Linked DNA regions of Homo sapiens. The protein of the gene in region 3 binds, or shares a complex with, the protein of the main gene of each other region. Each region holds a gene or a part of one and is shown on either strand. Other genes may lie near its edges.

Region 1 (7,187 bases), on a different chromosome or scaffold from region 3:
AATATCAAGGGATGGCTTCACTAATGCATTCAGAGGGAAATGCTGAGATAAGTGAGGAGATAAAGTAGTTACTGTCCTTGAGGAATTTACAATCTATTAAGGGGGGGAAAAACTACAAATAATAAAGTGCTGTTGATGTCAAAGATCAGCTACATTTTAGACAGGCATTGAAAGAGGATTTCTATAGGCAGACAGGGAAGGAAGGACCTTCCAAGCAAAGAAGTTGGTGTTCACCATAAGAGGATGCAAAAGTGGAGGGTGATAGCATCAGAAAGTAGATTAGGTTGGCTTCTGAAGGGGTGTGACTGTCAGATAAATTTGTATTTCATTATGTAGACAATGGGGTTACATTAAAACTTATTTTTTGAACAATGAGATGGCATAAAATAATATCCGCTGATAAATCTCTTGAGTTTTTCAAGAAGGTGACAGTGTATACCATGATGCTAGTTCCAATTTCCGAAAAGTTCCAGATAAGTGAGAACTTCAGAATAGATTTGACAAAATGAATATCAACAGACAAAATGAAGTCAAATGGGGGTCTTAGTTATTATCCTGCTCCATACCAGAGGCATAATCTTTTTTGATTTGATGAATCTATGGAAGTCATTAGACATTTTACACAAGAAGAAAATAGAAGTTGTGAGAAGGATAAGAAGTGAGTCATGCATGCATTAGGTGTTTGTATGTGTTTAGAAAGGTTGGATTTAAAGTTTGGTGATAATTTTGTTCAGAAATGGAGTACCTCTAAGCCTTTGAGATGTAGTTATACTTCATTTTCCATAATAAATGAGTTCCCAAAAAGGCATGTGATAATTTTTTTCTGCAAATTAATATATTTATTTATATAAATTATTTCAATATATTGAAATAGTTTATGTTTAAAGCCACCCAATTGTGATTGCCATAAAGTGCACATATTTTAAATTAATTTGTTTACCTTATTTATTTGCCTTTTAGATGAATCTAGATTTTCTACCTGTATACTTTGATTCAATTAATGTATGATTATTTTTTAGAAACTTCTACTTGTCATGTTTCAAAGCTGCACATTAACTGAAATTCTATATCTTGTTGCTTCCAGTCTCTAGTAGCCAGTGAAGCAGTTCGTGCTATTGAGAAAATTAGTAAAAATACCAGGTATACACATGGCCATGGCTCAGAAACCTTATGTAAGTATTTCTTCTTATGATCTTAGAGAACTTTGAGCTACTAAAGAAATCTGTGTGATCTGTTTTTCTTTGTGTATTTAATTTTTCTGAATTAAATAGGGTCACATGTAATACAACTGAATTGTAATAATTAGGAACAGAAGCATAATAGCTATGACAATGCTGAACAAAGCTATATTAATAAATGAGTTACTAAAAAGAAGCCAAAATCCTATTTAAGAAATCATATTTATCACAATCAAGTAGGAATTACAGAATTGGCATCATACTAGTTGAGTGAAGCAGAAAAGTTCATAAAACTTTTGCATGATTCCCAGGGCCACCATGGAAGGTTGTGCAGGTTGTACACTACACTAATCTAGGGCATGCCATTTGCATCAAGTGTTTTTTAGTGTTAGCCTGTTCCCAAGAGTATAGCTCATAACACATTACAGTTGATTGTCTTTAATATATATTACACACACAAAACTTGTGACAAACTCTTAACAAAAAGTTTTGATTAATTTTTGCTGAAAGATATTTAGTGAGTAACTCCTATCTACACACAGTGGGAGGACAGACTGATTTTGCCCTTTTGAAGTTTGAAGGGAGATGGGAAAAGAGGAGCATAAAATAAACCTGTAACCAGGCATCAGAAAACTACAGCCTGAAGGCCAAATCCAGGTTTTTCCTTTTTTTTTTTTTTTTAATGATTAGAAAAAAACAAAAAGAGGCCAGGTGCTGTGGCTCATGCCTGTAATACCAGCACTTTGGGAGGCTGAGGCAGGAGGATCACTTGAGGTCAGGAGTTCGAGACCAGACTGGCCAACATGGTGAAACCCTGTCTCTACTAAAAATACAAAAATTAGCTGGGCATGGTGGCAGGCGCCTGTAATGCCAGCTACTTGGTTGGCTAATGCATAAGAATTACTTGAACCTGGGAGGTGGGGGTGGCAATGAGCTGAGATTGTGCAACTGCACTCTAGCCTGGGTGACAGAGTGAGACTCCATCTCAAAAAAGGTCGAAACTGTATTTATCATGAACACTAAAATATGTACACATTTTAGTTAACATGCATTAAACTGTAACAAGTCTTCTGGCAATTGTAGCTTTCATGAGATGCTTCCCAAACTGTATTAGATAGATGCTAAAATTATAAATTAAAATTTTGGGTCAGACTTTGCCATAAACCTGGACTCAATTTAGCACCCCCCCAAAAAAAGTCAGATTATTCAATTAATGCGGTTGGAAAACCTAACAAGTTACCTAGAAAAAAATTAATTGGATTATTAACATGTCTTTCACCAAAGTAAATTCCAGGTACAGCATATATTTTCATATGAAAACCCTGCATAAACCAAGTTGAAATCTCAGTAAGGAGAAAAAATTCTTGTGAAAGGAGAAATGAATGAAAGGAGAAAAAAAGGTCTACATGCCAAACAAAGCTAATAACACTAATGTCGTTTTTATAAGCAATTGATAAAATGAACCAAGTAGACAAATGAGGAAGGACAATTGATAGGAAATATAAAGATAGCCAATAAATATGCCAAACAAATGTGCAACTCACTGATAATCAAAAAACATAAATTAAGACAGTTGGATATTATTTTTCGCCCATAAAATTATCAGAATTCATAATTCCTATTGATGGTATGGGAAGGGGAAATGGGCAAATTCATACCCTGCTTGTGGAAGTATAAATGAATTCAGTTCTTTTGACGTCCATTTGGGAACATGCCGTAATTGCAAAAAGTACAGAGCCTTAGACTAGCAAATCTATTCTAGGGAAGAATATTCTAAAGAGACAAAGAAGCAATTATGTATAAACAAGGGTACTCATTGTAAAGTTGTTTATATTAGTTAAAAACTGAAAAAAATCTAAAGGTATACAAACAAATAAACATTTAAATCAAACAATTCCCAGTTTGTAAATTAATTTGAAACGTCTGTATTTCAACAATTTCTTTCTTCTTCTTTTAGACCTAGCTCCTGGAGGTGGGGACGATTGGATCTATGATTTGGGCATCAAATATTCGTTTACAATTGAACTTCGAGATACGGGCACATACGGATTCTTGCTGCCGGAGCGTTACATCAAACCCACCTGTAGAGAAGCTTTTGCCGCTGTCTCTAAAATAGCTTGGCATGTCATTAGGAATGTTTAATGCCCCTGATTTTATCATTCTGCTTCCGTATTTTAATTTACTGATTCCAGCAAGACCAAATCATTGTATCAAATTATTTTTAAGTTTTATCCGTAGTTTTGATAAAAGATTTTCCTATTCCTTGGTTCTGTCAGAGAACCTAATAAGTGCTACTTTGCCATTAAGGCAGACTAGGGTTCATGTCTTTTTACCCTTTAAAAAAAATTGTAAAAGTCTAGTTACCTACTTTTTCTTTGATTTTCGACGTTTGACTAGCCATCTCAAGCAAGTTTCGACGTTTGACTAGCCATCTCAAGCAAGTTTAATCAATGATCATCTCACGCTGATCATTGGATCCTACTCAACAAAAGGAAGGGTGGTCAGAAGTACATTAAAGATTTCTGCTCCAAATTTTCAATAAATTTCTGCTTGTGCCTTTAGAAATACAACCATGCATTCCGTTTGCTCCACGGTAATTAGGCGATGGCCCAGAAAGGGGAGGGGTGTCAAAAACGACAAACATAGCCTCTCATTCCAGCTCAGCTGCTCAATAAACACTGTTGAACGAATGAATGAGTGGCTCTAGGTACTGTCAACAAATGCCGCATTTTGCGCATTTACAACAGCTGTTTATGGTAAGGAATTATGTAATAAAAAGAGAAAACTCACTTAAATTCACTTTTAATTGGGAATTTTAGTTCTCCCGGGCTCCCAGTTTCCTTTCCTAGGATCTCTCACAGAGCACAGATTCGATTTCCAAGTCCCGCCGCACTCTTACCGCTCGCATGGAACCTTACGCCTAGAGGGCGTGTCCACGAAGGGTGGTGTCTGCGCACTGACGACTAATCTGACGGCCGGAAGCTGCCTGGGTCTACAGAGGAACAGGGCAAACCTCTGACTTCCGGCGGCATTTTGAGGCGGTCCTCCTAGCGGCCTGGTAGTGTTTTTGTTGCCTTTTCTTAATCTACAATCTCTTCGTTATTTTTCTTCCTGCGACCCAGTTTCGCTTGACCCTGGAGAGGCGGCGGGCGGGTTGGTTCTGCTTCTCAGCCATCCCGGGGGCTCCTCGCTAGCCAAGAGCCGGTTCCCGGGAGCCGCGCGCGCATCGCTTTCTCCTCGTCGTCGTCCTCCTGGGTCCAGGCGCGGGGACAGAGTCGCCTCCCCCGCTCCTCGGAGCGGCGGCGGCGGTGGTGCCTCCGGACTGCACTTGCGAAGGGAGCTTGGGGAGGAAGTAAGCGTTCTGTGAATTGGTGTGGGTATCTGGGGAAGGCATTGAGCGGACCCGTAATGCGGAGGCCCGGGTTACCCCCCCCCGTCTTTGCTTGAGTCACTGGGATTTTGAGCTTTCCTTGAGCATCCCACCCTTAACTCTGCAATAGCCCCCTGTGCTCAGGCGTAATTTCTCACTCTGATTATGATTCTGGCATTTGTCTAAGGGCGATAAGTAGACTCAGACAATAGGCTGTACCCCTCGTTACCATTTGATGTAAGCACGGGAACCCTTGTATGGTGTTCGTATTTGTGTGCGATGGAAGGGTGCAGCAATTTGGGCTTAAATTTAGAATCTTCCTCTATACTCATTCCAGATCTGTTAGAGAAAAACATCTTACTTGTGATTGGTCTTGTTTTTTTTTTTTTCCCTCAGCAGTGATAACGATTTAGGTCCTGGGAATTGAGTGCTACTTTATCTTCACAAGCCTTAGGTAGGTAGTTTTGGCAACTGTCAGAAACGGGGGAAAGTGGAATAGAAAGAAGAGAGTCTGTTTGGCGGCATTATCTCTCTGTAATAGGCTAACGCAATTTATGTGGTTTGAAAATTATTTAGAGTTGATAATACTTGAATTATGTTGGTAAGATGTTGTTTGTGAAGGGTAGTCTTAAGGTATTTGGTTATACTATGGGGCTTTCAGGTAATTCGAACTACTTTGAAAATTATGGGAGTATGAAGTCTCTTAAGATTTTTGGATTTTTAAAGTAGTTTTAAAAATTTGGAAAACATCTTTACACCTCAAGTTTTCGAAGTCCGCGATACCGTTGGAGAATAAATACTTATGCAGTTCAGTCTATGGGTATATGGTGCCAGTTAGCGGGGTCTAGTTCTGTAACATTTGAAATTACTGGCTTTAGTACAATATATTGGAGCGTTTTGTGAATACAATCTATAGATTTTCAAATAATTTTTATTTTCTTAATGAACTATTTAGATTATAACAGATGACAGTTTCAACTAGAGACTAGCAAAGTTGATGCAAGCTTGTAACAATTGCGGCTTTAAAAATAGTTGCACTCTGAAACTAAGGCTTTCACTCTGTGCATCTGGTAGGATTCAGTTTTATCAAATGTATGCCTCTTACTGGCTTCCTGATTACTGGTCATTCTAAATGAACATTGCATATTTTGAGATTTGCAAGCTTATGTGATTTTCATATTTGTAATATGAATTTAACATACTAAAAATCCAGCAAGTGGATGGTATCTTAACATCTTTACAAATTATTAAAATTGTAATATCATCAGTATTTATAATATGCATTGGCATTTACATAGAGGAAACACATTGTTTAACTTAAATTTACTTAGAGAGTTGGTTTTCAGTGGATGATAGTCTTCCTCACCTCCTCATCTCTCCCAACTCCATCTCATATAGAGGTGGAGCTATTTCTCCAGCTGTTAGTAGTAGTTGAAGCATTAACTGCTGTTGATATAGAAAGAGTCTTTTATTCTTTTTTTTTTGTATTTTTGTATGATGCAGTTCTTTTTACTTCACTTTAGAGTAGCTACCAGCATGGGATGTTTTCTGTGCACAGTCTTTTTAACAAATTGTTTTTTCTGCATAGTACTGCAGTGTTGCTTTGCTAATTCCTATGTAGTCAGCTTAGTTCTGTCAGTTGTATTTGGAATTTAGTTTGGAATTGTTTTAGCATTAAATTTACGGAAGCAATCTGAAAGTTTGTTTTAGAAAGTTCTTTTTAAAAAATTCTCTCAAACTATGCATCAAATAAAGTTAATTTTTCTTTCTAAAAATATGAAGTATAAATGTGAAGATACCTTATTTTTAGTATCACCTTTTTAATCTTAGAAATTCAGAGTATAGGGATTTATCCTACTAGTTAGTACATTCATGTAGTTTTAATTGCCTAATTGTTTGAAATTTCCCTAATATTATGCCGCTACTCATCCGGATTAAAGTGTTATGCTTTCACTTATGCTTCCAGTAGATGAGACCTGGAAAAGATAATTAATTATGGATTGAAGTGAAGATACTAGAACGCATATGTGTTTATTGACAAGATTTTATTAATTGAGCTTCTGGAGTCATTATTCAAAAAGAGACCCTTTTGTATGCTTCTCCTTTCTCAGCCATAATTATAATGTGAACCTTCTGAGTACAGTGTTATTCTAAGTTTCTCGGGGCAAGGGAGCAGTTCCCATTTAAGACCCTCTTTTGTTGTGTCTTTATTAATAGACTCAAACTTTGTGTCCCGGATTTTCTTTTTCTTTTTCCATTTTCTTTTTTAATTGAAAAGAGATTATAAAGACTTCAGATATTCATTTGCTCTGCAAATGGAGAGGAGAAATAGGAAAATAACGAAATAGGCTTTCACTAGTGCCACTCTGTCTTTGATAATGCTCGTGTTTGAGAAAGACTTGATGATGTGGGTGGAAGTGTGATGGCAACTTAAACCAAATAATAATTTGAAAACAAAAATGGAGGAAAACCTTCATAGAAGAGTAAATTAGTAAGTTATTGGTATGACCTTGATTTCTATTCTCTATGATAGGAAAGACTTTAGTATTTACATTTTTATCTTATGGTTTCTAATTTTTCTCATATACTTTGAAGCATTTACTTGTCATGTTCAGCCTGTTCATACATAATTTGAAAAA
Region 2 (7,771 bases), on a different chromosome or scaffold from region 3:
CAACTGTGATTTTTTTTTATCCTGTTAGTCTTTATTAAGCACCTACTATGTGCTAGGCACTGGGAATATCAGGGGAAAGAAGTGACAGTCGGACACACAAATAATGCAATGTCTGGGTGTCATGAAGAAAATGGACCAGCAGGTGCTGATTTAGAGTGGCCAAGAAGTCTCTGAGGAAGGGTTATCATTGAAGTGGGGTAAGACCATCCCATACAGGGAACAGCAGTGTGAGTGCCCAGAGGCCTGAAAGAGTGTGGCATGTATGTGGACAGGAGAAGGTGACAGGGTGCCTACAGGATAGGCAAGGGCCGAATCCAAGACAAAAGCCCTAGTGAAGCAATGGGTTTTCTAACTTGAATTTCTCTGACAGTCTCTGGCTTTTCTCTCTGTTAAAGGTTTGAACCCTGGTGACACTTAAATTCATTTGGTGGCTGTCAGCTTGGACTGAGCATGTGTTAAGAGTCCAGGGTTTACACTGGCTGAATCTGACTACCAGTACAGGCAGGGCACCGAAAAATGCCGCTGTGGGCCAGGTGCGGTGGCTCATGCCTGTCTTCCTAGCACTTTGGGAGGCCAAGGTGGGAGGATTGCTTGAACTTAGGAGTTTGAGATCAGCCTGGGCAAAGTGGTGAAATCCTGTCTGCACAAAAAAATTTTTAGGCTAGGCGTGGTGGCTCACACCTGTAATCTCAGCACTTTGGGAGACCGAGGTGGGTGGATCACCTGAGGTCAGGAGTTCAAGACCAGCCTGGCCAACATGGCAAAACTCTATCTCTACTAAAAAATACAAAAATTAGCCAGGCATGGTGACAGGCGCCTGTAATCCCAGCTGCTCAGGAGGCTGAGGCAGGGAGAATTGCTTGAACCTGGGAGGCGGAGGTTGCAGTGAGCCGAGCCAAGATTGCGCCACTGCACTCCAGCCTGGGTGACAGAGCAAAACTTTATCTCAAAAAAAAAAAAAAATTGTTTTAGTTAGCTGGGTGTGGTGGCCCACACCGGTAGACCCAGCTACTAGGGTGGCTGAGAGGGGAGGATCACCACCCAACAGATTGAAGCTGCAGGGAGCCGTGATCATGCCACTGCATTCCAGCCTGGGTGACAGGGAGCCCTATCTCAAAACACAAGTAAGGCCCTACAGAGAGATGATGTTTCAAGGTGTCAGTATGTTTGGAGGAGATGGCTCTCAAGCACCTCCTGAAGGCCATTGTCCTTTATTGCTCCAGTGCTACTATATCGGGGCCACAGATGATGCAGCCACCAAAATCATCAATGAGGTATCAAAGCCTCTGGCCCACCACATCCCTGTGGAGAAGATCTGTGAGAAGCTTAAGAAGAAGGACAGCCAGATATGTGAGCTTAAGTATGGTGAGTATGCCTAGTCCTTTCTTAATGAATGCTGTGCACCTTCTGGGTTTGTTTCCCATCTGGGAGAGGAAAATGATGAGCTAGAGTCATGAGTGGGTTGTATTGTATGACAGATGGTGCTAAATGCTGGAGGGCTCTGGCATGGAAGTGGGTGGAGGTCAGAATAGGCCTTATTGAAGAAGTGATATTTCAGCAAACTTTGAAGGAGGTGAGGATTAGCCAAGAGGCCAGCTAATGGAAGAGGATACAGGCAGGATAAAGGTGTCCAGTGGCATGGCAAGTCAGAGAGCATTGCAGGCTGGTGAGGGCTTTTAATCTGCGTGAAGTTAGGAGCATTAGGAGTTTTTCAGCAGAGAAGGGACATAGTACGACTTGGGTTTAACAGGCTGGTTCTGGCTGCAAGCTCTGAAGCCCCAGTGATTTTTACTATTCTGAAAAGAAACACTATGTCCAAGCATGCAAGCCCAAGAGTTAGGAACTACAGCATCTCTCTTGCTGACTGGGTCTCTGGTGTACATAGTCCCAGTCTTCAGAAACAGTCAGGGCCTCTTCTGAAAAACTTGAATGGCCAAGGACCTGTGTTCACCTACTTGCGTCTTCCTGGTACAGGTCCAGTTGGCTCCAGGTCACTGTGGTCATGGAGAGTAAGTTCCTAACTCAAAGGCCTGAGCAGGGCTGCTCTTTGGCACCAGCCTGGAGTTGTTAGTATGTGGTGACTATGTCAGAGGCACTTGGAAGATGGGAACCATGTTTCTCCTATAAGGACAGTGTGGCCTCTGTCCCTATCCTTGTTCACGCTGCATATCTGTAGTAGACATAATATGTAGCCAGCCTTCCTGGTGAAGAGGCTAGTTCCCTCTTGTGGGGGCAGTAGGCACTGACATGCCTGTAAATGTGTCTGGAAATGTCTCTTCCTCTGAAACCAGTAGGGCTGGTTTGGCCGTTCAGGGAGTGACATACTCTGGGACTACTGGGGGACTGCAGGTGCTCCACCCAGTCAGTGACTCTCCCTGCTCTCTCCTCCAGACAAGCAGATCGACCTGAGCACAGTGGACCTGAAGAAGCTCCGAGTTAAAGAGCTGAAGAAGATTCTGGATGACTGGGGGGAGACATGCAAAGGCTGTGCAGAAAAGTCTGACTACATCCGGAAGATAAATGAACTGATGCCTAAATATGCCCCCAAGGCAGCCAGTGCACGGACCGATTTGTAGTCTGCTCAATCTCTGTTGCACCTGAGGGGGAAAAAACAGTTCAACTGCTTACTCCCAAAACAGCCTTTTTGTAATTTATTTTTTAAGTGGGCTCCTGACAATACTGTATCAGATGTGAAGCCTGGAGCTTTCCTGATGATGCTGGCCCTACAGTACCCCCATGAGGGGATTCCCTTCCTTCTGTTGCTGGTGTACTCTAGGACTTCAAAGTGTGTCTGGGATTTTTTTATTAAAGAAAAAAAATTTCTAGCTGTCCTTGCAGAATTATAGTGAATACCAAAATGGGGTTTTGCCCCAGGAGGCTCCTACCAGTTTCTGCTTTCCAGTTGCAGAGTTTGGGGGGTTATTCATTCCCATTTATCTCTCAACCCACCAGTGCTGAAAATACCAGAGCAGGACATAGGGGCTGGGGCCAGCTGATGTGTGTGGGTGTGTACCACTAGAGGGCAGCAGGCACTCAGCAGAAAGGAGGTGGCGGGGGCGGGGGGTGCTGCGCTTGATACCCTGCCCCTTGATACAGTATCTGTCTTACCCGCCCAAGAGAGCTGGAGGCCACAGCTCTAGGAGGAGTGAGTCTGGGATACATTGGAGGGCCTTATATTGTGGCTCAGTACAAGCAAGACAGGGTGTCTGGAGTGTGGTTTTTCCACAAGGATATCTTCAATCAGTGCACGTCAGCACTGACATCTCTATAAAGATGCTGTTGGCCTGGCCACCTACTTGCTCTTTTGTCCATTCCAAGCCTCTGATGTCTGTTCCAGTTTTTGCAAGTCTGGCAGGAGTCAGCTTATACAAAGAGGGAGTGGGAAGCTGCCTTTTGCCTTTGTTTACCCTAGATTAGTCTAACAGTTGAGGTCCAGGGTTTTGCTGGAGTCTGCTTCTTAAGCCACTCTCTGTGGCACTGGTGCTTAGGAAACCCAGTTGTTAGTGTGAGCTGTGGCTCAATGAAGACACCTGTAGAAACCACCTGAAAGGACGGACTAAGAACCAGTGCTTTCCAAGTAATTGGTCTTGCCTCAGATCACTTCACTTGTGTCTCCTAAGCTCAGTTTGCCTGTAGGAGGCCTTGCTGCTGTGGAACCCATTGCTTTCTTCCAAGACCTTTCCCCCTGCACCTGCCTGAGCTACTCCAGGAGCTGCTTTCTCTTTGTGCGAAGAGGGCATGACTTGGTCTGCTCTTCCCCATCGCAAGGATTCTGTGCCAGAAATTGGGTCAGGTTCTACCATGGCTCCAGCAACTGTCCTTGGAGAATGAAAGCTTCCTCAATGGGCTTGAGCACCTGGGCACCCTTTCCCTCACCTCACCTGGGGAGAAGAGGTCGTCCTGAAGGTGATGAACAGGAGGGTACTGGCCAGCGAGGGGTCAGCGTGGCAAGGTGTGATAACTGCTGGCACTATCTGTGCATATGGCCTCTTCATCCTTGGCTCTTACGGCCCTACCTTTCCAGCCTGCTATCTGCCCACAGAAGAGGGTGGGACCCAAGAGTGGCGTTAAAGAGTCTATTCCAACTCCATCAACTGCAACTGCAGGCTTGTCTCTGCTTTCGGTTATTACCTGCGTGACAGCAATTGTCCTCACGGCCTTTTCGGGGACTGCTGCAGGTGAACCTGCACGTGGAGAATGCGCAGAATGTGGGCCTTGGGTCCTGGGCAGGGTCTAAGGATAGGCATGCATTAGTCCTTGGCGCCGTCAACGCCGGATCCCAGGCAGGAGATGCCAACGAGGGTGATGTGGGGTTTGCTCAAGCCTAGTCCTAGGACTGAGGGGATACTACATAAAGAGACCACTGACTGGGTCAATGCCCCAGATCCCAACGGCCATGGAAGCTGCCACTCCTGCTCCAATCAGCGCGGGCTCCAGTGCCTGCAAGAGGAGATAGCTGGACCCAGAGCGGCAAAGCACGGCTGGGAGCACAAAGCGTTAGGTCGTCTCGCCGGCCTCTCAGGGTTCACTACACTCCGCGTAGCCTCAAGCATCGGCCATGCGGGCCGCGCGGTGGCGCCAGAGCGCGCGGCCGGTCCCACTCACCCAGCACTCACAGGGTCACCTGGCACTGGGCGACGCAGCGCGATGAGGCAGGCCCGGCGCGGGTCTTGCTCCGCCCGCCGCAGAGTCACGTGGCAGGACGGCGCACCTTGATAACGCAATGCCCGGCCCCTCGGCGCCGCTCCCGCCCCGCCCCGCCGCCACCGCCGCGCCGAGTCCTTTTGTCCAAGATGGCGGCGCCGGGGGCGCTGCCTCCTCGGCCGCCGCCTCCGCCGCCGCCGCTGTGAGAAACCTACGGGCCGCCCGCCCGCCGCGCCAGCGCCATGAAGCGGCAGAGCGAGCGAGACTCTAGCCCGAGCGGGCGCGGCTCGTCATCGTCCGCCAAGCGTCCGCGGGAGCGCGAACGGGAGGCGGAGGCGGGCGGGCGGCGGGCGGCGCACAAGGCCTCTGGCGGCGCCAAGCACCCGGTTCCAGCGCGGGCCCGCGACAAACCCCGCGGCAGCGGAAGCGGCGGGGGCGGGCATCGCGACGGCCGCGGCACCGGGGACGCGAATCACCGCGCGAGTAGCGGGCGCTCCTCGGGCTCCGGCGCTGGCGGCGGGGGACGCGGCGGCAAGGCCTCGGGGGACCCGGGCGCCTCCGGCATGTCGCCCCGCGCGTCTCCTCTGCCGCCGCCTCCGCCACCGCCTGGGGCCGAGCCCGCGTGTCCCGGCTCATCCGCGGCCGCGCCTGAGTACAAGACGTTGCTCATCAGCAGCTTGAGCCCCGCGCTGCCCGCCGAGCACCTCGAGGACCGGCTCTTCCACCAGTTCAAGCGCTTCGGCGAGATCAGCCTCCGCCTGTCGCACACGCCTGAGCTGGGCCGTGTGGCCTACGTGAATTTCCGGCACCCACAGGACGCACGCGAGGCCCGCCAGCACGCCCTGGCCCGGCAGCTGCTGCTCTACGACCGCCCGCTCAAGGTAGAGCCCGTGTACCTGCGTGGCGGCGGCGGGAGCAGTCGGCGAAGTAGCAGCAGCAGCGCCGCCGCTTCCACGCCTCCCCCAGGGCCGCCCGCGCCCGCCGACCCGCTCGGCTACCTCCCGCTACACGGAGGCTACCAGTACAAGCAGCGCTCGCTGTCCCCCGTCGCTGCCCCGCCCCTGCGGGAGCCCCGTGCCCGTCACGCCGCCGCAGCCTTCGCCCTGGATGCCGCTGCTGCCGCCGCCGTGGGACTGTCCCGGGAGCGGGCCCTGGACTACTACGGGCTGTACGACGACCGTGGGCGCCCCTATGGCTACCCAGCTGTGTGTGAGGAGGACCTGATGCCCGAGGATGACCAGCGGGCCACGCGCAACCTCTTCATTGGTAACCTGGACCACAGCGTATCTGAGGTGGAGCTGCGAAGGGCCTTCGAGAAATATGGCATCATCGAGGAGGTGGTCATCAAGAGGCCTGCCCGTGGCCAGGGCGGTGCCTATGCCTTCCTCAAGTTCCAGAACCTGGACATGGCCCATAGGGCTAAGGTGGCCATGTCGGGCCGAGTGATTGGTCGCAACCCCATTAAGATAGGCTATGGCAAGGCCAACCCCACCACTCGTCTCTGGGTGGGTGGCCTGGGACCTAACACGTCACTGGCGGCTCTGGCCCGAGAGTTTGACCGCTTTGGGAGCATTCGGACCATTGATCACGTCAAAGGAGATAGCTTTGCCTATATTCAGTACGAGAGCTTGGACGCAGCCCAGGCCGCCTGTGCTAAAATGAGGGGTTTTCCCTTGGGTGGACCAGACCGCAGGCTCCGCGTGGATTTTGCCAAAGCAGAGGAGACTCGGTACCCCCAGCAGTACCAGCCCTCGCCACTCCCTGTGCATTATGAGCTGCTCACAGATGGATACACCCGGCACCGCAACCTGGACGCCGACCTGGTGCGGGACAGGACGCCCCCACACCTTCTGTACTCAGACCGAGACCGGACTTTTTTGGAAGGGGACTGGACCAGCCCCAGTAAAAGCTCTGACCGCCGAAACAGCCTTGAGGGCTACAGTCGCTCAGTGCGCAGCCGGAGTGGTGAGCGTTGGGGGGCAGATGGAGACCGTGGTTTGCCCAAGCCCTGGGAAGAGAGGCGGAAACGGAGAAGCCTTTCCAGTGACCGTGGGAGGACAACCCATTCACCATATGAGGAACGGAGTAGGACCAAGGGCAGTGGGCAGCAGTCAGAGCGGGGCTCCGACCGCACCCCTGAGCGCAGCCGCAAGGAGAACCACTCCAGTGAAGGGACCAAGGAGTCCAGCAGCAACTCCCTCAGCAACAGCAGACATGGGGCTGAGGAACGGGGCCACCACCACCACCACCACGAGGCTGCAGACTCTTCCCACGGGAAGAAGGCAAGAGACAGCGAGCGCAATCACCGGACCACAGAGGCCGAGCCCAAGCCTCTGGAAGAGCCAAAACACGAGACCAAAAAGCTGAAGAATCTTTCAGAGTACGCTCAGACACTACAGCTGGGTTGGAATGGGCTTCTGGTGTTGAAAAACAGCTGCTTCCCCACGTCTATGCATATCCTAGAGGGGGACCAGGGGGTGATCAGCAGTCTCCTCAAAGACCACACTTCTGGGAGCAAGCTGACCCAGCTGAAGATCGCCCAGCGCCTTCGACTGGACCAGCCCAAGCTTGACGAGGTCACACGACGCATCAAGCAGGGGAGCCCCAACGGCTATGCGGTCCTCTTAGCCACCCAGGCAACCCCCAGTGGGCTTGGCACTGAGGGGATGCCCACAGTAGAGCCCGGTCTGCAGAGGCGGCTTCTCAGGAACCTGGTCTCCTACTTGAAACAGAAGCAGGCCGCAGGGGTGATCAGCTTGCCAGTGGGGGGGTCCAAGGGCAGAGACGGCACAGGCATGCTCTACGCCTTCCCACCCTGCGACTTTTCCCAGCAGTACCTCCAGTCAGCACTAAGGACATTGGGCAAGCTAGAAGAAGAACACATGGTGATAGTCATCGTCAGAGACACTGCCTAGCCCAAGCCTGTCTTTCCCAGCGTCATGTTTGTGTCACAAAAGCAGTTATTTTAAAATCTGATCCCCTCTCTACCCTACCACTTTGGTTTGAATTATCTCCTGGGTTATTTTGGTTCATTTGGGTGGGGATCAAAGTCCTGTCCACCACCAAAACTAAGTTCTTAGATTTTGGGGGATTTTTTTTTTTAAACGATGAGAAGGGAATCCGGTTA
Region 3 (7,620 bases):
TCTTTAGTGTCTCCTTTTTAATTGTTAGAACTTTGATGTGTACTGTGTAGTATTTACTATGTCTACGTAGATCTGAAATCTAGTGACATAATTGATCATCCAGCTCTGGTAGTTTAGGCTCAATCTTACGGTGTAATTATACAAAATAATTAGAGGCAGCTGTATCCTTGTTTCTGATTTTAAAATCTGAATGTTTCTTCAATTCTTTGTGTACTCTCCCTTCATTTGGTACATATAGAAGTCTTCTTATGTGTTATTAAAGTCTTCTAAGATAGTATTCTGGTCATTGGAGACACCAAAAATCTATGGGCACAGTCCTGTTCTGTTTCTTTTGCCAATAGAATGTTCCTTAAGGTTCAGTCACAGTCCTTTTACTTCCCTTACAGAGATTGTTTAAATTTCCACAAAAGCACGTATTTACTCTTCTTTCACTTGTTACTAAATGACTTCTTCACATTTTACTTTGCTAAAGGCTGGCTTTTATCATTTTCTTTACTTTTTTTTCCCACTAACCCCCCCGCCCTTTTCTTGAGACAGGGCCTCTCTCTCATCCAGGCTGGAGTGCAGTGGTGTAATCACACCTCACTTCAGCTTCCCGAGTAACTGATTTCAGGTGTGCGCCACCAAGCGCAGCTAATTTCTTAATTTTTGTAGAGATGAGGTCTTCCCTATGTTGCCCAGGCTGGTCTTGAACTGCTGTACTTTGGCAATCCTTACTCCTTGGCCTCCCAAAACTGTTGGGATTATAGGTGTGAGCCATCGCACCTGGCCCATTATCATTTTCTCTACCTTCTTAACACATTTTGTCCTTTTGTTTCTATCAGTTTTGTTGTAATTCTTACCACCACTGATACTTCTTTCTCCATAGTTACTAATGAATGTTTTAACAAATTTCCCTTTACACGAGAAATGGATCTTACCTTTAGACTGCTAGCACTTGGGAGATAGAGTGTGAATAGAAGGTGTTGATGGTAATATCTCATAGGATCAGAATGTCTTGAATTCCATTTCTCTTCCGGATTCCTACTCTTGACATCATAGTTGATGTGTGCACATCACAATGTTTGTGCTATTCATGCACATCTGATTCTCCATCTGTCCTATATGCGCTGGCAGTTTTGATCATATTACGCCTGGTCAAGGCCTTCGGTGATACCTCATCACTCTTGTCTCCTCGACCTGGATTTTAAGGTTATTTCAACTATAATGGAACCTAACCTTTTCCAGCTTTTTTTTTTTTTTAAAACAGCTGTCACCTGCATACGCCAGCTGAACAACTTCCTGTTCTTCCAATTATAATACAAGTGAGGTTTTGCAGACAGGGCAGGGCAGCAGGAGCAAAATCACAAGGAAAGGTCAAGATTATATATGGCAGATGAGGATAAAGTTTCAGGTGAGAGTGAAAAAAGATGAGGTCAGCCTGGAATCTTGGGTATTCTAGAAGAGAGGGGACTACTGAAGAATTCTTCAGCAAGAGATGTATGTGATGGATCAGATTTAGATTTACATTTTAGGTAGATCACTCTGACTTGAGTATGAAAGATAGATTTGAGAGGAACAGGACTTTAAGCAGGAAAACCAATTGTGAGGCTGTTAAAATAGTTCAGATGAAATACATGAAGCCACTGGTGGTAGCAGACAGGACAGAATAGGTGTTTTGGAGGCACAATCAATAGGACTTGTTTAGTTTGGATGCTGTTGTGGAAGGAATGAAAAAAATCTAGGGAGGAATCACAGCTTCAGGTTTGTCTTGTTTGACTGAGTAACGATGCTACTAGGATAGATCCTACAAAGATCAAATTTTAAAAGAAGAGTAGAGTGTGGTGTTAGGAAAACAGGAAATCCAGCATTCCCTCCTCCTTCCCCAAAATACAAAGTGATTAAAACAAAGGCATACATAAAGTTCTGTACAATACGAATTTAAAATTGTTCGTTAGATTTGGCAGTTAAGAGGTTGTTGGCCAAGGAAGCCAAAAGATTGGATACCCCTGCTCTAGAGGAACTGTCAAGTGGGAAGTGAGAGAAACTAAATTTAAAGAGTAGAAAGAATGGGAGTGATGTACTATAGGAGTTTGGAGGGAATAGGTTAAGCGAATGGTTGAAAGGATTGGCCCTGAGAAGGAGGGTTTCTTACCCTCTTGAGTGAAAAATAGTGGAAAGGTTTGTATTAGGTACCTGTCCTTTAAAACAGAGCTGCTGCATTTACCCTTGGTGTTTCAAATTAAGCTAAGCTTAGAAAAAATAAAATATACATCCTTAGGAATCTATTTGTGTAGATCTTTTGTTTGTCCAGCATACTAACTCATCCATTTGATCTTTTAATAATAATGCTTTATTTCTTTGTCTACATGCAGTCTTTGCCAAGTACATCAGTAGTCAATTTAGTTAGTTTTGAGCGTAAGGCATAAATTAGCCACGTAGTTACTATATTCTTAACTATATACTGTATTCTTAACTATATTTTATTTTGTTGGTAAGTAAAATCTGTCATTTTTGTTCACCTCAGTGGTATTTCTGTTTTTCATTTAGTCTTTTGCCAATCAACTCAAAATAGATTTAGGAATAAAACTAACTTTGAAAACACTTTACTCAGTGTTCTCTTCCCTAGAACATGGAATTTATTCTAGTCTGATTCACCTCTCTTTTCATGAATGAAAGTGTTGACTATTGGGTCTTTGTAAAGCTAAATAGTAACTGAGTCTCAGTCAGTGCTGTAGACTGTTTTAATCAGTCCTGTCAGTACATGGAGTGCACTGTAAGTCATGGTTTATTCTCGCTCTGTTATCTTAGCAGCTGGCTTCACATTGACTATGCAGTTGTACTAGATTTTTGCTCAGTGAAACAAATATATTCCCAAACCACTTAGTATATTTGTTCCTTTTACTAAATTTATATTAGAAAATTTTAACTGTAATCCTATTTAAGCCTTAGTATGGAGTTAGATCTTGGGCCAGATCTACTTTGAGTATGAAGAAAATGATGAATTTAATGCTAATAACTATATTTCATATTTTAGAAATGTATTTTTAGTGTGCTAGTAAATAGCACAACTGAAGTCGAAATTGAAGGTTTCATATGTAAGTAGAAGGGTTCTGGTATGGTGGAAAAAGCTCTAGACTGGGAATCAGAAGGCCGGAGAACTAGAATTGTAGTCCCGCTATGGCACTGAACTAAACAGTTGGGTTATTTAATCTCAAAATAAGCAGTTTGGATTAGGTGAGTTACTTTCCAGCTTTACAATTCTATGATTCGGATCTATTCAGAAGGGGAAAAATATGAATTATACTTTATTTTGGCTTAAGGTCCTATAGAGTTTTGCTTTTATAAAGCTGTAACAGCAACTCTTGTAGCTATAAGTACTGTATATTTTTTCCTTTAGAAATTCAAATGTGTATTTTAAGTTATAATCTTGCACCTGATGTATTTTTAGGGGACTTTACATAGAATAATTTCCACAGGTAAAAAATTAAGCAAACCAAAGACTTCATTAACTCTTAGGTAATTAATATTTTAAACTTTGCTTTTTTCCACTGGGTTGTCAGCATTTTTAGTAAATATAATGTTGATTTTCGTTTGTTTTTTGGTAATGTTTGGATTGTAAAGTAAAATGTATGTAGCCACTTTAAGTCCCAGATTTGGAGATGTAATCAAATGGCCTCAATTCCTAAGTGAGTAACCTTAAATAGTTATTTTTTTAATTGACAAATAAGTTTTTTACATATTCAAGGACTACTACATAGTGATGTTTCAATACATATAATGTATAGTGATCAGATCGGGGTAATTAGCATATTCATCAAATAGTTTTTAGTCTGTACTTTTTCTAGAAAGTTTTAAGATTTTTCTAGAGAATTTCAGGATCAAAGAGGGGAGGAGCTTAATGAAAGAGTTGGTAAATCAAGTGAATGGAGGGAGTTTTCCCCACCTTCTTATGTATGTTTCCTTTGATTTGGTCGTAATTGTTTCTTTTGCTTTGCACAGACTCAAATCCAGTACCTCAAGCAAGTCCAGCAGCCGAGCGTTGCCCAACTGAGATCAACAATGGTAGACCCAGCGATCAACTTGTTTTTCCTAAAAATGAAAGGTGAACTGGAACAGACTAAAGACAAACTGGAACAAGCCCAAAATGAACTGAGTGCCTGGAAGTTTACGCCTGATAGGTAAACAAATCATACTCCCCAGTCAAGACTTCCCTGACAGTCCCACTACGAGAAAGCTGTGGTGGGACAGCCAAGTACTCGTTTCCACACCAAGACTCAGACTTTTTGAGCCAAAAAAAAGCCACATTCTTACACTGTCCAGCTTGTAATGGTTAATGTAAAACTTACCAGATGAACCTTGTGTTTCAGCTTTTTTCTTTTCCCCTTCCCCTTGCTTCAGAGGCCTGATGGCGTCGGACTATTCCGAAGAAGTGGCCACCTCCGAAAAATTCCCCTTCTAGAACATGTAGACACTTGAGAAATGTTTCTGTTTGAAGAAAATAGAGGGAGAAACAGAAGTCTTAAGTCTGTGGCACACTGTGTCTTCAGACAGTTTGAAGGAATGAAAACCTAGAGATTTTAAATCATGAATTGAACATGTAAAATTCCAGTAAAATGTAAAAACGGAATATGCATCGCTCTTAACCTTGAGCATAGTGACTTAGAGACACTGTGTATCAGTTTTGCCAATAAGACTGTGGACTTCATGATTGTTGTTGAACTTCTGGGTCAAAACTCAAATGAGGTGAATTTTGCCTTTAAAGGGTTTATTTGCTGAGAACCAACTTTCAATAGTCATGAGAGAATCAAATAATAGATGTCCGTACAAGTAGCGCATATATTTAACCATTTAGTTTGGGGCTCTATATTACTTGCTTGAGCCTTAATCAATGTGGTTTTATTCAATGGTTTGTTCTTTGAATGGTTGCAAAAACTGTAGATAATCTTACTGAGGACTGTACAAACATGAAGGTGTGGTATCAAACTTCAGGTTGAAACTGTTTGAAGCATTATAAACATTCATTTCACAACTAGATTGTATAAGGATATTAGCTGTGATGAGACTCACTGCATTATTTTTTTTAGTGAATTTTATGAAATCCCCGTTCCATTCAACAGGCACATGTTTAAAAGAGCTTTGTCGTTGGTGTTAATGGGGGAATGTGTTCCTTCATTGTATTTGGGCCTTTTGTATTGCACTCTTGATATTAAATTAAATGTGCCTTGAAATAGTTGGTTTTTTTTTTTTTTTAAGTTCAAAGAATATTATGATGATTTTGTTGTACTCTTTAACATTTTAATTTGGGGCGGGGAGGGCCTGTTGAGAGCAGATTCATTTTGGAAATACTGTTGCTGTGCTCTTCAAAGTGAAGGAAAAGGCGCTGTGCCTCATTTTTAAAAGACCTACATAAAAGACAAGGAGACTTGACACTTGTTACTTTTATGACACTTTGTCCCAGGGTATTGCAGTAGAAAGTAATGTGGGACAGCTTCACAGGGTGTCTGCCAGAAGATAATGTGTTGGAACTGTGGGCTGGCCTAAGTAAGACATTTTGTGAATTGAAAAAAGGTATAGTGATCATTTCTAGCAAATTCATTTAATCATTTAGATAAATGAGGCATTATTTTCTTCATGCTTCCATCCAATCCTGGAGGTGAATTTTTTCCGTCAGATCATTCTATAAGTCACCAATTCAAATTTTCGCTTGGTGATAATGGAGTCTAAGATGAGTGGAAGATAAATGTTCCAGCTTGTCCCAACGTTTAAGTGCAGTTTTAACAAGGGTGACTTAAGTTCTCTCTTAATCATTCAAATCAATTGTAAGTATCATATGTTTGTGCTTTAGGGAACTGATTGTGGGGCAGAGGGTGGGTTGAAGAAGTGGTTTGTGTGACTTTTCAGCAAGAAATCTGCTTCTAAAATTCTCACTATTTGTGAGGGTTGGAGGGTAAGTAACCAGATCTGTTTGAAATTAGCTTATGTGCTTGCATTAAGGCTTTTGTAAATATTTTATGCCATTTAAGTTCACAGTAGAAATGGCCTAAGTATCTTTTTAGTAGATTTTAGTAGAAGAGTAATCCATAAAATGTATTATTAACATGTACTCAAATTGAGCAGGCATCTTTCTTTGACACTTAGATAACAGTCATGAGTTCTATGGTTTTTTTCTTGTCATTGTTAAAATTTTCTCTTTTAATAAGATAATACATGCTTATGTATAAAATTGAAATACTGTAGAGAAAGGGGGAGATGAAAAGTGAGTGTCACTCCCGGATGTGACCTTGACATCCTCATTCTCTTCTCCAAGAGCAGTAACTGCTATTACTTTTTCTTGGGTATCATCAAGATAATTTCTATGCATATACAGTTATTTTATGTATATTGTTTTAAACAAATGTGATCATACCATAAACACAGATGAGTTGCACCTTGTTTTTTTTTACTTGGTCTCTTTGGCATTTTTCCATTTTTTAATGTATCTAGACAACTACATTTTTAATGCTTACATAGTATATTTCCGTTATATTAAGGAATCATAATTTATTTGAATCACTTATAAATGGATTTTTTTCTATAAAATTGGCTGTAAGCCAGAGTATATCAGGTACTATAAATACATCACTAATTTGAAACAAATAATGGCTCAGGCAATCCCGTCTGGAATATTTCCAGTGGTGGAATGGGTTTTGCTTTGGGTTGCGTGCACGCGCACGCACGTGTGTGTCTTCGCTTTACTGTTTTTCTGTTCTAATTTTGAGGAAGAAAGATTCCCAGAAATAACCTGTCCAGTTCAGTTAAAATATTTCATTCATGTGAGAATGCACACATTTTAGAGTGTTTAGAGGTATATCTTTCAAAGTGCTTTCTATTATGTTTGTGGGTTAATCGATTTTAGGAATGGGTTGATTTTTTTGTTTGTAATTTTAAAAAATTATTTCAAAAACAACTACTTGTAATTAAATTATTTTTTCAAAACTGTGATTTTGTTAAAATTTATTTTACTAATCACTAGTTTTAAACGTGATATGACTATCTTAGCTTAGACATTTATTTATTAAAAGGTATGACTTTTTAAACGAAACCTTTTTTGCATTAGAATTTGTGACATTTTTATATGGGGTTAAGTCAGGTCACAGATTAATGTATCTTACAGTTGTCTTTTTCTACTCTTTAAAATTCATATAGTAAGAAGGTTAGTTGTAAACACCAATGAAATATATATACTTTGCAAGAAGACAGTTTTGAGAGCATAGGCAGTAAAGTGGAAGGAATTCCATTGTTTTTGACAATCTTGCATATCTCTCATTTTCCCATTGTTTAATTTCTAAGTGGATGTTCAGTGGAGGCTAACGCCTGAGAGTGCTGATGGGAAATGGTGGAAATCTGGAGCTACAGTAGCAGTGAACAAGAACACCAGCTAATAAAGTTATCATATCAAAGAATAAAGCCTTTACCACATGCTCACTGGTGGCTTTCACCCTCGGGCTCCTCTGAGCAGTAGTAACCCAGGTTGAACTCTTCAGGTATTTTCTGGAAGAAAGCTTAATTACAAACTTTTCCTTGAATTACATTAGGTTAGAAAACATGCAGCCAGGCACGGTGGCTCATGCCTGTAATCCCAACACTTTGGAAGGCTGA

What was found.
Region 1: the proteins of WTAP (region 3) and ZC3H13 are in contact, whole or in part, in a cryo-EM structure (PDB 7VF2), measured with the Homo sapiens proteins. Residues at the interface, in NP_001257460.1 of Homo sapiens: Asp202, Glu203, Asp206, Phe207, Gln210; in NP_001317494.1 of Homo sapiens: Arg1512, Pro1514, Gly1515, Ala1516, Ala1517, Leu1518, Lys1520, Phe1521.
Region 2: WTAP (region 3) and RBM15B share a complex: the UniProt entries of both Homo sapiens proteins name them as parts of the WMM complex.

Annotation. Positions count from the first base shown.
Region 1 is NC_000013.11:46,049,747-46,056,933, reverse strand, and holds the start of ZC3H13 (zinc finger CCCH domain-containing protein 13), read left to right. Parts: upstream 1-4,187; 5' UTR 4,188-4,530; intron 4,531-4,944; exon of another isoform or gene 4,945-5,002; intron 5,003-7,187. Other genes in the region: CPB2 (carboxypeptidase B2 isoform 1 preproprotein), read left to right, coding at 1,085-1,172, 3,136-3,320. UniProt on the Homo sapiens protein: Associated component of the WMM complex, a complex that mediates N6-methyladenosine (m6A) methylation of RNAs, a modification that plays a role in the efficiency of mRNA splicing and RNA processing.
Region 2 is NC_000003.12:51,386,514-51,394,284, forward strand, and holds the start of RBM15B (putative RNA-binding protein 15B), read left to right. Parts: upstream 1-4,771; 5' UTR 4,772-4,886; coding exon 4,887-7,559; 3' UTR 7,560-7,771. Other genes in the region: MANF (mesencephalic astrocyte-derived neurotrophic factor precursor), read left to right, coding at 1,224-1,365, 2,392-2,576. UniProt on the Homo sapiens protein: RNA-binding protein that acts as a key regulator of N6-methyladenosine (m6A) methylation of RNAs, thereby regulating different processes, such as alternative splicing of mRNAs and X chromosome inactivation mediated by Xist RNA.
Region 3 is NC_000006.12:159,744,210-159,751,829, forward strand, and holds part of WTAP (pre-mRNA-splicing regulator WTAP), read left to right. Parts: intron 1-3,981; coding exon 3,982-4,160; coding exon of another isoform or gene 4,161-4,164; exon of another isoform or gene 4,165-4,380; coding exon of another isoform or gene 4,381-4,441; exon of another isoform or gene 4,442-5,210; intron 5,211-7,620. UniProt on the Homo sapiens protein: Associated component of the WMM complex, a complex that mediates N6-methyladenosine (m6A) methylation of RNAs, a modification that plays a role in the efficiency of mRNA splicing and RNA processing.